Homo sapiens: one gene and its partners. The protein of the gene in region 2 interacts with the protein of the main gene of each other region in a biochemical or structural test. Each region holds a gene or a part of one and is shown on either strand. Other genes may lie near its edges.

Region 1 (3,751 bases), on a different chromosome or scaffold from region 2:
TAGCAGCTTCATTCATAATGTAGCCAGAGTGGAAACGGCCCAAATGTCCACCAACTGAAGAGTAGATAAAACAGAATGCGGTGTGTCCATGCAATGGAACACTACACTGCAACATGATGAACCTAAGCAATATTATGCTACCTGTCTGATTCCATTTATGAGTTGTCCAGAACAGGCAAACTCATCAAGACAGAAAGTAGATCAGCTCATTGAAAAAATTATTCTACTTTCTCCAAAGAGAACTACTTGCTTCCACCTGCCCATCTCCCACTCACCCCTGCTTCCTTTCTGCCTTGGATTCCCTCATCTGACTGTTCTGGCAAGGTTTGGCCTCCTAATACCAAGTCCCACGACTCCTTGCATGGCCTTGTCATCCTTGTTGTTCTCTGTGGCATTGTCTCCACCATCTACAGACTACTCCTTGAAAAGCTAACACTTTCCTAACCTCTAATCTCCCAGTTCTCTCCTCTTGACTCAGCAGTGACTCTCTTCAATCTCCATCCCAGTTTTACCTTCTCCTAAGTATCTACATCTCATTTCCTAATGGATGACCCCCAGGCACCCCAATTTCAGCACAATTAAGATAAATTTTCATCATTTCCCCTAACCAGCTCTTTCTGCTGACTCCTAACTCCCCCAGTGCTCCAGGCTCAAAGTCTTAATGGGATCTTAGAATTCTCCCTCTGCTCTGCCTTCAGGGACAAGCCTTCAGTGAGGACATGTCCTGTCACATCCCCAACACTCACTCCTTGCTCACCCAGTTGGCCACTCCAACCTTCCCAATGGTGTGAACACTCAGACTGAACTTGAGGTGCTTTCCTTTCCTCATCAGACACACCTTTACAGAACACCTAGTCAGTGCCAGGTACTGCAGGGTACTCTGTCAAACTGGGTTTCTGCAGGGAGAAGCAAGCAGAGGCCCAAGTCAGTGCCATGGAAAGGTATTTGAATGAGGGCCACTTCCCATCCAAATTTGTCACCCTTCATCACCTCACACCTGGATGGCTACAGTTTCCTAATTGGCCTCCCTGCCTCCAATCTTCCTTGCCTATCACCACCGTTCAATTTTCTTTTCTTTCTCTTTTATTTTTTTGAGACAAGGTCTTGCTCTGTCACCTAGGCTGGAGTACAGTGGCACAATCTGGGTTCACTGCAACCTCCGCCTCCCAGGTTCAAGCGATTCTCCTGCCTCAGCTTCCCAGGTAGCTGGGGTTACAGGTGCCCACCATCATGCCCGGCTAATTTTTGCATCTTTAGTAGAAATGGGGTTTCACCATGTTGGCCAAGCTGGTCTCGAACTCCTGACCTCGGGTGATCCACCCTCCTCGGCCTACCAAAATGCTAGGATTACAGGCATGAGCCACTGAGCCCAGCCCACAATTCAATTTTCTTAAAAACCCATGATTAATATGTCACCCCCTACTTGAAAATCTTCAACAATTCCCTATCTTCCATAAAACACCTTGCATCTACAGTACAATTTAGCTCCACCTCACCTCTCAGACCTCATCTTCTACTGTTTCCTCACACACACTATATTCCAAGAAATCTCTAGTAAACTTTCATTTCCAAAGGCAGCTTGTTCTAACTCCTCCCACATACTTGTCAGGCTGCTCCTGCCACCCATCTATTTGGACCCAGCAAAAAGGTCACCTCCATGACTGTTTCTTTCCTGATCCCAGTGGAAGAGGATCCCACCTTGCTGCCCTTCCAGAAGACCTGGTGTGTAATGGCACATGAGGCCCTTTCTCAAAATAGAGATATATAACACAAAATGAAATGGTAGACTTACTCTATTATGGGAAACCTGGGGGCCTGGGACAACAGGACGTTCTGCAGTAGTACAAGACCCCAGAGATCAACTAGCACACATGCTTTATTGGGTGCCTATAGTACTTTTTTTTTAAATGAGCCAACATATAAAAATCTGGGTATTTCTTTCTTTCTTTCTTTTTTTTTTTTTTTTTGAGACAGAGTCTTGCTCTTGTTGCCCAGGCTGGAGTGCAATGGCGCGATCTCGGCTCACTGCAACCTCTGCCTCCCGGGTTCAAGCAATTCTCCTGCCTTAGCCTCCTGAGTAGCTGGGATTACAGGCATGTGCCACGACGCCCGGCTAATTTTGTATTTTTAGTAGAGACGGGGTTTCTCCATGTTGGTCAGGCTGGTCTCAAACTCCCAACCTCAGGTGATCCACCCGCCTCGGCCTCCCAAAGTGCTGGGATTATAGGTGTGAGCCACCGTGTCCAGCATTTTTTTTTTTTTTTTTTTTAGACAGAGTCTCATTCTGTTGCCTAGGCTGGAGTGCAGTGGCATGATCTCAGCTTACTGCAACCTCTGCCTCCCAGGTTCAAGTGATTCTCCTGTCTCTGCCTCCTGGGTTGCTGGGACTATAGGCGTGTACCACCATGCCCGGCTAATTTTTGTATTTTTAGTAGAGATGGGGTTTCACCATATTGGCTAGGCTGGTCTTGAACTCCTGACCTCAGGTGATCCGCCCACCTCGGCCTCCCAAAGTGCTGGGATTACAGGCATGAGCCACTGTGCCCGGCCAAAAATCTGGGTATTTCAAATAAAAATCCAGACTTCGGCATCTCTTGAAAAACAGACACTGATACCTCTCTTCCAAGAAGCCTCCCTGGACTTCCGAATCTAAGTAGGCTAGCCCAGTCACACTCTATAATATGGCCCAATTTTATTTTGCTCACAGTGCCCTGCCTAAACTGTTCATTTATTTTACTCAACTTGTATTTCCTCCATCAAGAATGTAAGCTTCGTGAGAGAGAAGACACATGATCTGTCGCGCTCAAGTTATCCTTTGTCCATCATGAATACTTAGAAGCCATTCAATGAGTAAATGAATGTGGCCTCCCTGAGCCCATATCCTTGAAGGGTACCAATGGACTGGAACACAGCAGACATTGTGGAATGAATGGATCCTTGCCTGCCTGCACCTCCTGGAGGCTCTCTAGGTTGCATCCACCCCTTATCCCCACCATACACATACAAAGGAAGTAAATGTACTCACCCTGCCTGCCTCTCCCCTTCCTCACCTGACCGGCTCCTAGAAGCATCCAGGCTGGCTATTTCCTTGATCTAATCCAACTCCAAACCATGTCCAAGACAATTAGTATCCTGCCCAGCCCAAGATCACTGGATCACTCAGGCATTCCACAAATATTTAATGGGCACTCTCACTGTGCCAGGCACTGTTCTAGGTTCAAAGAATTTAGTGGGAATGAAACGAAGGTCTCTGCCTCAAGGAGCTAACATTCAGTAATGGGAACACAGGGGTGAGAATCAAGGGATAATTTTATCTTCAGACCACTGACCTTCAGCATGCCCAACTCTTTTTGTCCTCCAAGGCCCAGGTCAAGAGCCACCTCTTTGGTGTGGTCTTCCTGCTAAGCCAGCCTTTACCAAGCTACCCTCACTGCTGACTTTTACTTGTTGTGCTGTGCAATTTTAAGCTGTTCCATACTGGCACTAGAGTTTCTCATCTCAAGCTCCATGAAGCCATAAAATTCTATGCTATCTTTCACGATTCCTTACAGCTCAGAAACCACAGCCAGCACTTGAATACTTGTTGATCAACTGAAGACATGGAACCACTTTTCCCAAACCTGGCCCCTAGGTCTCCTGTGACACAACAGCCACACCTCTTCCTTGTGCGGTATATAACTATTTTGAGAAAAAGCCTTATGCACTGTTATAAACCAGGTCTTCTGGAAGGACAGAGAAATGGAATCTTCTT
Region 2 (3,751 bases):
CCCCGCTCTCTGGGAGATAGGTCCTGTTGTTATCTTCATTTTACAGATGAGGAAATAGGTTCAGAGAGGGGAAATGTCTTGCCCAAGGTCACACAGCTGGTGTGTGGGATGGGTTCCCAGGCTGTTGGTTTCTTCAGCCTCTGCCATTTCCAGTGCATCACATATTCCTGTTTGATGGGGGTCAAAGCAAAGAAGATTCTTCCTGACTAGAGTCAGGAGATCAGGCCCTGATTCTGTCATTCCCTGGCCCTCTGTCCTCAGCAATTGATGACATAAATGTTGATTGTGTCTTTGCAATGCACGTGGTATCAAGGGCTTTACATCCTTGTTCCCCACGGCATCCACCATGATCTTAAGACACATCCTAGTCCTGTCTCCACTTCAGAAAGAAAGCAAGAGGCACGTGAATGTTGAGCCGTGTGACAGAGTCACAACTAGACCCCGAGGTCTGCTGGATTCCAGAGACCAAGTTCTGTGCGGGTGTGTGATTTGAACAGGTTTATAAAAGGCACCCAACTTTTAAAAAATCCAAAATGTGTCCCCAAAAGATAAAACATTCTCTTGAATTTCCCTCCTCAGAAACAAACCTGTCACCAATTTTATTGTGTCATTCCACGAATTTTCTATGCGTGGAATGTACACGTATACGCGTGTGTACATATATACATCTATATCCGTTTCGCTATCAGCAACTACACAGTTCTTCAGTGTACCGTTTTCACTTAATTTAACTGAGAGGTTCTTCCCTGTCACACACAGATGTGCGTTGTTTCCTTGAACAATGGGATAGCATTCCACTGTAAAGACGTCTCACGCTTTATTTACCCGTCTTCCCTCTGCTGAGGGACATTGGGTTGCTTCCAATGTGGGGGTCACCCTAAGGAGTGAGCCTGAGCCTTTCACTCTCAGTAACACATGCTTTCTAGCCCTGCATCTGAGTTTCACACGTCCGCACAAGATATTCTCATTTTCCAACGCTCCACCCTGCGCGGCGCTTTCTACCTCCTCCCCATTATCCAGAGCCAACGGAGGTGCGGAGCGACCGAGCTGCCCGGTCCCACGCCCAGCTTGATAATGCACCAGCAACGTGACCTAGGCCCAGCAAGCCTCTCCTGGTGGACCTCAATTTGCCCCGCATCGAAACAGGACGGTGCTTCCAAGCCCCACCCTCTGTGGGGTTTTGGAAAGACCCCTGAGATGCATTCCCAGGAAGGCCTCTGGACAGACAAAATGAGCCAAGCCTCTGCCCCAGGGCTTCTCGGCCCCTCCCAGCACTTCTCGCACCAAGCAGGCCATGCCCCGGCTTGAGAGCTTAGGGAAGCGGTCACATTGCCTCCGTGGGGCTTCCTGCCCTTCCAGAGGAGCTCCAGGAGGAGCTTTGGGCCCGTAAGAAACACACGGGGAGGTGTCCCATGGCCTCCCAAAGCTGACCGCAGTCCCGCCCTGTCCAGTCTTCCCCCAGCCCCACTTACCGTAAGAACTCTCCACTGGAGCCCCGAGGGGCGCGTTCACGCTGACCATGGCCAAGCCCACCCAGCCGGAGAGCTGGGGGCATGGAGGAGCAGGGGCCCGCTCACAGCAGCAGCACAGCCACCAGGAGCCCGTCCACCAGGAAGGCGGTGAGTGCGGCCAGCTGCCACCGCCCGGTTATCTTATTGATTCTTCTAATCACCCAAGGTGGGTGGATACGTTAAAGAGTAACCAGTCACTTAGGGAACCCGCGGCTGGGGACTGTTGCTGTCTCCATGGCAATGGCGACCTGGCCAGACCTGAGGTCCACTCGGGTCCTAGTCCTGCACTCTGGGGTTAGGGGAACCCAGAGCCAGGTGTATGGGGACATCAGCCCCCCAATTTGAGGACAGGGCCGGAGCAGAAGGGGCTGGAGAGGTGAGAGTCCAACCTGGGTTGGGTTTTATGGCTCCAAACTATGGGTGTGTCACCATGCAGGAAGTAGTGGGAAAACCGAGGGAGGGGCAGAGGAAAAAAGGAGGGTGGAGAACTGTGTTTAGTGAGTGCCTACTGGATGCTGGGAGTTGCATACAGGCGTTACCATATTTAAATTAAACCTTGAGATGAAGGGACTGAAGGACAGAGAGAAATTGCATGCCTGGAGTCTCACTGCTAGTACATAGAGGTGTTATCTTCCTTTCATCTAACATATTTATTGAGCACCTACTATGTACCAGGCCTTGTGCTAGACTCTGGGGATATGGAAATGAGCAAAGTAGATGTACCCCCGAAACTTGTGGACTAATGGAGGAGACGGACCTTAATCAGATCGTCATTCAAAGATACTATTACAAACTGGTGAGTGATATGAGGGGTGGAGAAACATGGGGCTGCCTCCAGGCCAATGGGACAAAGTCATCCTGTCTGGCGTCTCCTCTGGTCTCCTTCCCCATTCTAAATTCAACCTGCTGCTGAAACTCACACACTCTGTTTTAGCTCCCTGGCATGTTAGACACCTGCCACCTAGCTTTTTTTTTGGAACAGCCCCGTTTCTTTTGTCTCAGTTTTGGATCTCACCACCTGCTTGGGGATTCTGAAATCAAGGTCATTCATCCTGTTAGAGAGAGCTGAAATGAGAACAGTGAAACAAATTCTGGACTCAGAAAAATCAGAAAACTCCAGCTCTATTATTTTCTTGCTGTATGTTTTTTAGTAAATTATTTCATTTCCTTATAGGAATACCTAGCTCATAGTTTGCCCTGCTTCTAAAATAGCTAATTGATAATATTCCTCTTCTCTTCCCATAGTCTCTTTTTTCAGCTTTATCAATCACCTCAGAGGGACCTTCAGCCCCTACAGATGGGCATGGGTTGCATTAAAATGTCCTTTCTTTTCTAAAACAACAGTGATAACAAACGTTAGATTTTGGGGCCGGGTGCAGTGGCTCACGCCTGTAACCCCAGCATTTTGGGAGGCCGAGGCGCACCGATCACGAGGTCAGGAGTTTGAGGCCAGCCTGACCAACATGGTGAAACCCCGTCTCTACCAAAAATAAAAAAATTAGCCGGGCATGGTGGCAAACGGGAGGCTGAGGCAAGAGAATCGTTTGAACCAGGGGGACAGAGGTTGCAGTGAGCCAAGATCGTGCCACTGCACTCCAGCCTGGGCAACAGAGAGAGACTCCATCTCAAAATAAATAAATAAATAAATAAATAAATAAATAAATAAATAACTTCGATATTTTTTAAAAAAAAGTATTAATATTCTTGGTCGGGTGTAGTGGCTCATGCCTGTAATCCCAGCAGTTTGGGAGGCTGAGGCAGGTGGATCACTTGAGGTCAGGAGTTTGAGACCAGGCTGGCCAACACGGTGTAATCCCATCTCTACTAAAAATACAAAAATTAGCTGGGTGTGGCAGCGAGCACCTGTAATCTCAGCTACTCGGGAGGCTGAAGGAGGAGAATCGTTTCAACCTAGGAGGCAAATGTTGCAGTGAGCCAAGATTGCACTACTGCACTGCAGCCTTGGCGACAGAGCCAGACTCCATCTCAGAAAAAAAAAAAGTATTAATATTTTTATATGGGGGTGGGGGAGGTTTGCTAACCCTATGTCAATTTCCCAAAATGTTCTGGAGATTTAAGTGGTACGTAACCCCCTGCATGAAGTGGCGTCATGAGGTCACATAACTACGAAGGAGCCAACACAGAACTGGAATTCAGCATCATCTGACCCCAAAGCCCGTGCTATTTCAACAGGTCTCACATTGCCTTCCTGAGCACCAGGATAATGAGGATGACAACCA
Region 3 (3,751 bases), 9.6 Mb from region 2:
CAATGTTTACCTGTTCCTTCCTACTCTGGGAATTCTGGCAATCACTGTCCTGAGGCACATTCAAGCTCTCCTTGTTATCCTCAACAACACCCCCAACTGCAGCCACAGACACAGTAGAATTCTGAGGATTCAGCCCACTGTTGTTAGGAAAGCTCCCAGGTACAGGGGGATTGGCCAGAGGAGTGGGACTGACCAATACATTTCTCGGCAACTCCACATTCTGCAATAGGGCTGCATTTGTCTGAGAGGCCAGAGTAAGTTTAGGGGCTTTTGAATTTTGCCTCCCAGGGCTTGGAGTGGTTTTCCTACTGGACCCAGGACTAGACCTGCGACTGTTGCTTGGACTTGCCCGTTTTGTTGCTCCAGAATTAGACTGCTTTCCAGAATTCACTACCACAGAATCTAATTTGTGAGTTTGTGGGGTAGCAAAATTGGAAGGATTCATGGTAAGATTTGAAGGTGCTTGCCCGATGGCCTTCAAAGTTGTTGGATTTAGGCCTTGTTGATCAAAGCCCCTGTTTAAATTTGGCCTAGGAGGTAAAGGAATATTAATCTGTGGAGGGAAGAGTCCTGCTATGGAGGCATTGAGTCTTTCTGGTGACAGACTGATTTCTGAAGGTTCTGTGCTGGGAGGGCGGTTGTTGGGTGTCTGAGGATAATAGGGTCTGGGGCTGGCTCTGTTTGGTGTTTTGGGCCTAGATGTCTGGGTTGGCGCAGCCACATTTGGGAAGTGGTGGCCGTGAGAGCTGGGCAGGGAATTTACAGGGGGTTGCTGGGGAGTTGCACCTTGAGTTGCTGAAAGGGGCGATGGTCCAGGTTTTGGCCCTGTCATCATTAACTGATTCTGGGGAAGTACTACATGTGAAGGCATGTTGTTTGGGCCTCCTGGGACAGATGGTGCTTCACTGCCACTTGCTTCAGGGAGTGAGGCCATCTCCGCCAGTGGCGAGCTGGAAGGATTCTGCGGGCTCTCCTGATAGACCATTTTCCTTGAATTGCTTCCCAAGGGAGTATTCACAGGCATTGGCATTCTTTGTTTATCAGGTGATGGTGGCACGGAGGCAGGTCCTTGCAGACTGACCATGACAGGCACACTGCCACTCTGTTGCATGGGCATTCTCTGGGAGTCGGGGTTCAGGGGGCCCCTTGGAGGATGGACATTTTGAGAGACTGGAAGCCTAACTGATTTGGGATCCTGCTGCATCATGAGCATCATCATCATTTGTTGCTGCTGCTGCTGCTGCTGCTGAGACTGTGGCTGACTGGGAGGTGGTGGCTGCTGCTGCTGAGGCAGTTGTGGCTGTGGCTGCTGCTGTGGTGGCTGTGGTGGGGGTGCCACATGCTGCATGAGTTGAGGAGGCATCTGCTGAAGTGGCCTCTGTTCAACTGGTTGAGAAGGATAACCTAAAACAAGCCCCCCAAATTAGGGAAGTTAGATTTTTCAGCAAGAAAATGTTGCTACCTTTAGAGTATAGCCAAGCAATACTCATCTAGGTGGCACAGACTATGCACAAACAGCTCAGGCATGCCCACTCCTGGGGCAGGGGGCAGCCCCTCATTACTTGACATAAGCAAAAGGGGCACAGTGCTTAAGGAAGCAAAAAGCAAAGCATCAAAAAACCTGGAGCTCCTCGGTGTGTAGGATCTGAATGAGCCATGACTGTACTAAGAGCCTGATTTTCTGTGCTATGCACTGAAAATGGCTGTGTCTATACCAGCCAAACATTCAGATGAAATGAGAAAAACTCCATCAACATCAAGTGCCTGGCCACCCAAGATTCAGGTCTCATGTAGTCATAATCAATATTTCAATGTACTTGTGAATGAAGTAAAGCATTTAGGATTCACTTCTTCTGTTAGCACAGGAATAATTTTTTTAAGATGTGGTTTTGTTGAAAATAACAGCACTGAAGACAGCCTTTTTATTCTTTCAACAGAAGTAAAATATAAAATTCTAGGATTCAGTTCCTTAAGAAAGAGGAATTTAAAATTATTCCAATTCATTGGCTCCATACACTACGCCGCATCCTTCAGGCTTAATCCTTTGGGGGAAACCGACTGAATTAAAATTGCCCTTCAGGTGTAAATCAGTTTAATAAACAGTAGGAGCTAATGGAAGCTGATATACACATTGAAAATAAAATTAGGGCATTGAAGTTTTTATGGATATTAATTTGCACTTACTTTCTTACATGCAAATCTCTATTTGGAGAAATATTTTCCATGAATCCACAGCTGGAGAATAAGTAAGGCAGAAGCATAGCCCTCAGGAATAAAAAATAATTTTGGGAAAAGAACTCTGAAGGACAATGTCTTCTAGATATGCAGAGGGCAACATCTCAAATTATTCTCTTTTTTTGTGAAGATTTTACTTGGCATTTTAGAACCAAAACCTTACAATCAGAAAAGATAAAAAGATACGCAAACCAAGAATAACGGTGGTTCTGTGGGAAAAAGTGGGCATACAGCTGGGCATATATGGGATACAATTCCAGTTCCACAAACTAGATTTATTCCATTGTTGCATGAAGAGTACATTAGGGAGGTTTTAAGAAGGTGTAGGAATAAGAACAACTGGCTCTGGCAGTCAAAAGAAATGCTGACTCAACATTTTCATAGAGCAGCTACCAAATTTTGTGGGTCAGACTCAGCACTCAATTAATGTCTTCTGGCCAAAGATTTCCATGGTATCAATGAATACAATGTGTAGAATCCAGTTTTGAAGATTTTTAAAAAAATCCTTTTTTATTTTAGGCCCGAGTAACTTCTTCACCTTTATAAAGCCAATAACATGGCATTTCTATGGTTCAACTGTCCTTTCGACTACATAGTCAAATACAGTGGGTTCCTATTTTTCACATTCAGTCTGGGGTTCCCACATTAAGAAATTTGTAATTGCTACAAAAGCCTGTTGATGTCAGGGTTATGACATGGATGCCTTTTATCTTTAAAATCAGCCCACCAGACAGTAAATACCAAAGAGGACAGCATAGACAATATAGCAGCCTCTCAAAAGTAACAGTTAAGGGCATGGCTGCTACAGAGTCCAGAAGCTGGAGGCAGCAGTCCAAAAGGCACTAATGATAAGACAGATTGGGGCTGACGTGACAGAATGGTGAAGAGGGAAAGCCAGGACACACATAGTGCCCATAACACAATCACAAACTGAATTTATTACTCAGGGAATGCAAACTCCTATGCCTTTAGGGGCCAGGCAGGTAGTAGAGAATAGAAGTGGACTGGTATAAGACAGCAGGAGTCCTGTCAACAGTGCCAAACTGCAGAGCAGATGCCCTATTTAAAGGCATTTAAACTCGGACTTTTGTTTAAGACACTGCATAGCAACTCAAAACCATTATAGGCCAAATTCAGCCTGCAGGCCCCCAGTTTGCAGAAAGAAGGCAATAAATGTATACAAAGACCCCTGGGATTCTTATAAGAAGAGTTCAGATGTGTCTGAGGCAAGCAGGCATGTTCCTGCTCTCAATGCCTTCTGGACATACTCCCCAAAGACTGATGACCTCCCAGTCTCAGCTATGCTGCTGCATCTCACTGACGGGAAGTGTGATATGCCCAAATAATTTGTAATAAATAACACAAAGTATTGATATCATGATGGATTTAGCTTTTTGTTTGGATTCAATTTTAAAATACATAAATTAGGGGTAGATTAAAGGTTACTCCTAAAATAATGTCGCTCTCATTTTCATGCCAAAAAGAAGTTGAAATAACTAGTGAGGAAGAAACAAAA

What was found.
Region 1: the proteins of HNF4A (region 2) and SREBF2 form a complex in vitro, tested with the Homo sapiens proteins (2 studies listed by BioGRID and IntAct).
Region 3: the proteins of HNF4A (region 2) and NCOA6 form a complex in vitro, tested with the Homo sapiens proteins (2 studies listed by BioGRID).

The regions. Positions count from the first base shown.
Region 1 is NC_000022.11:41,836,075-41,839,825, reverse strand, and holds part of SREBF2 (sterol regulatory element-binding protein 2), read right to left. Parts: intron 1-3,751.
Region 2 is NC_000020.11:44,353,575-44,357,325, reverse strand, and holds the start of HNF4A (hepatocyte nuclear factor 4-alpha), read right to left. Parts: upstream 1,628-3,751; 5' UTR 1,522-1,627; coding exon 1,473-1,521; intron 583-1,472; exon of another isoform or gene 1-582. UniProt on the Homo sapiens protein: Transcriptional regulator which controls the expression of hepatic genes during the transition of endodermal cells to hepatic progenitor cells, facilitating the recruitment of RNA pol II to the promoters of target genes. Activates the transcription of CYP2C38.
Region 3 is NC_000020.11:34,741,938-34,745,688, forward strand, and holds part of NCOA6 (nuclear receptor coactivator 6), read right to left. Parts: intron 1,405-3,751; coding exon 1-1,404. UniProt on the Homo sapiens protein: Nuclear receptor coactivator that directly binds nuclear receptors and stimulates the transcriptional activities in a hormone-dependent fashion. Coactivates expression in an agonist- and AF2-dependent manner.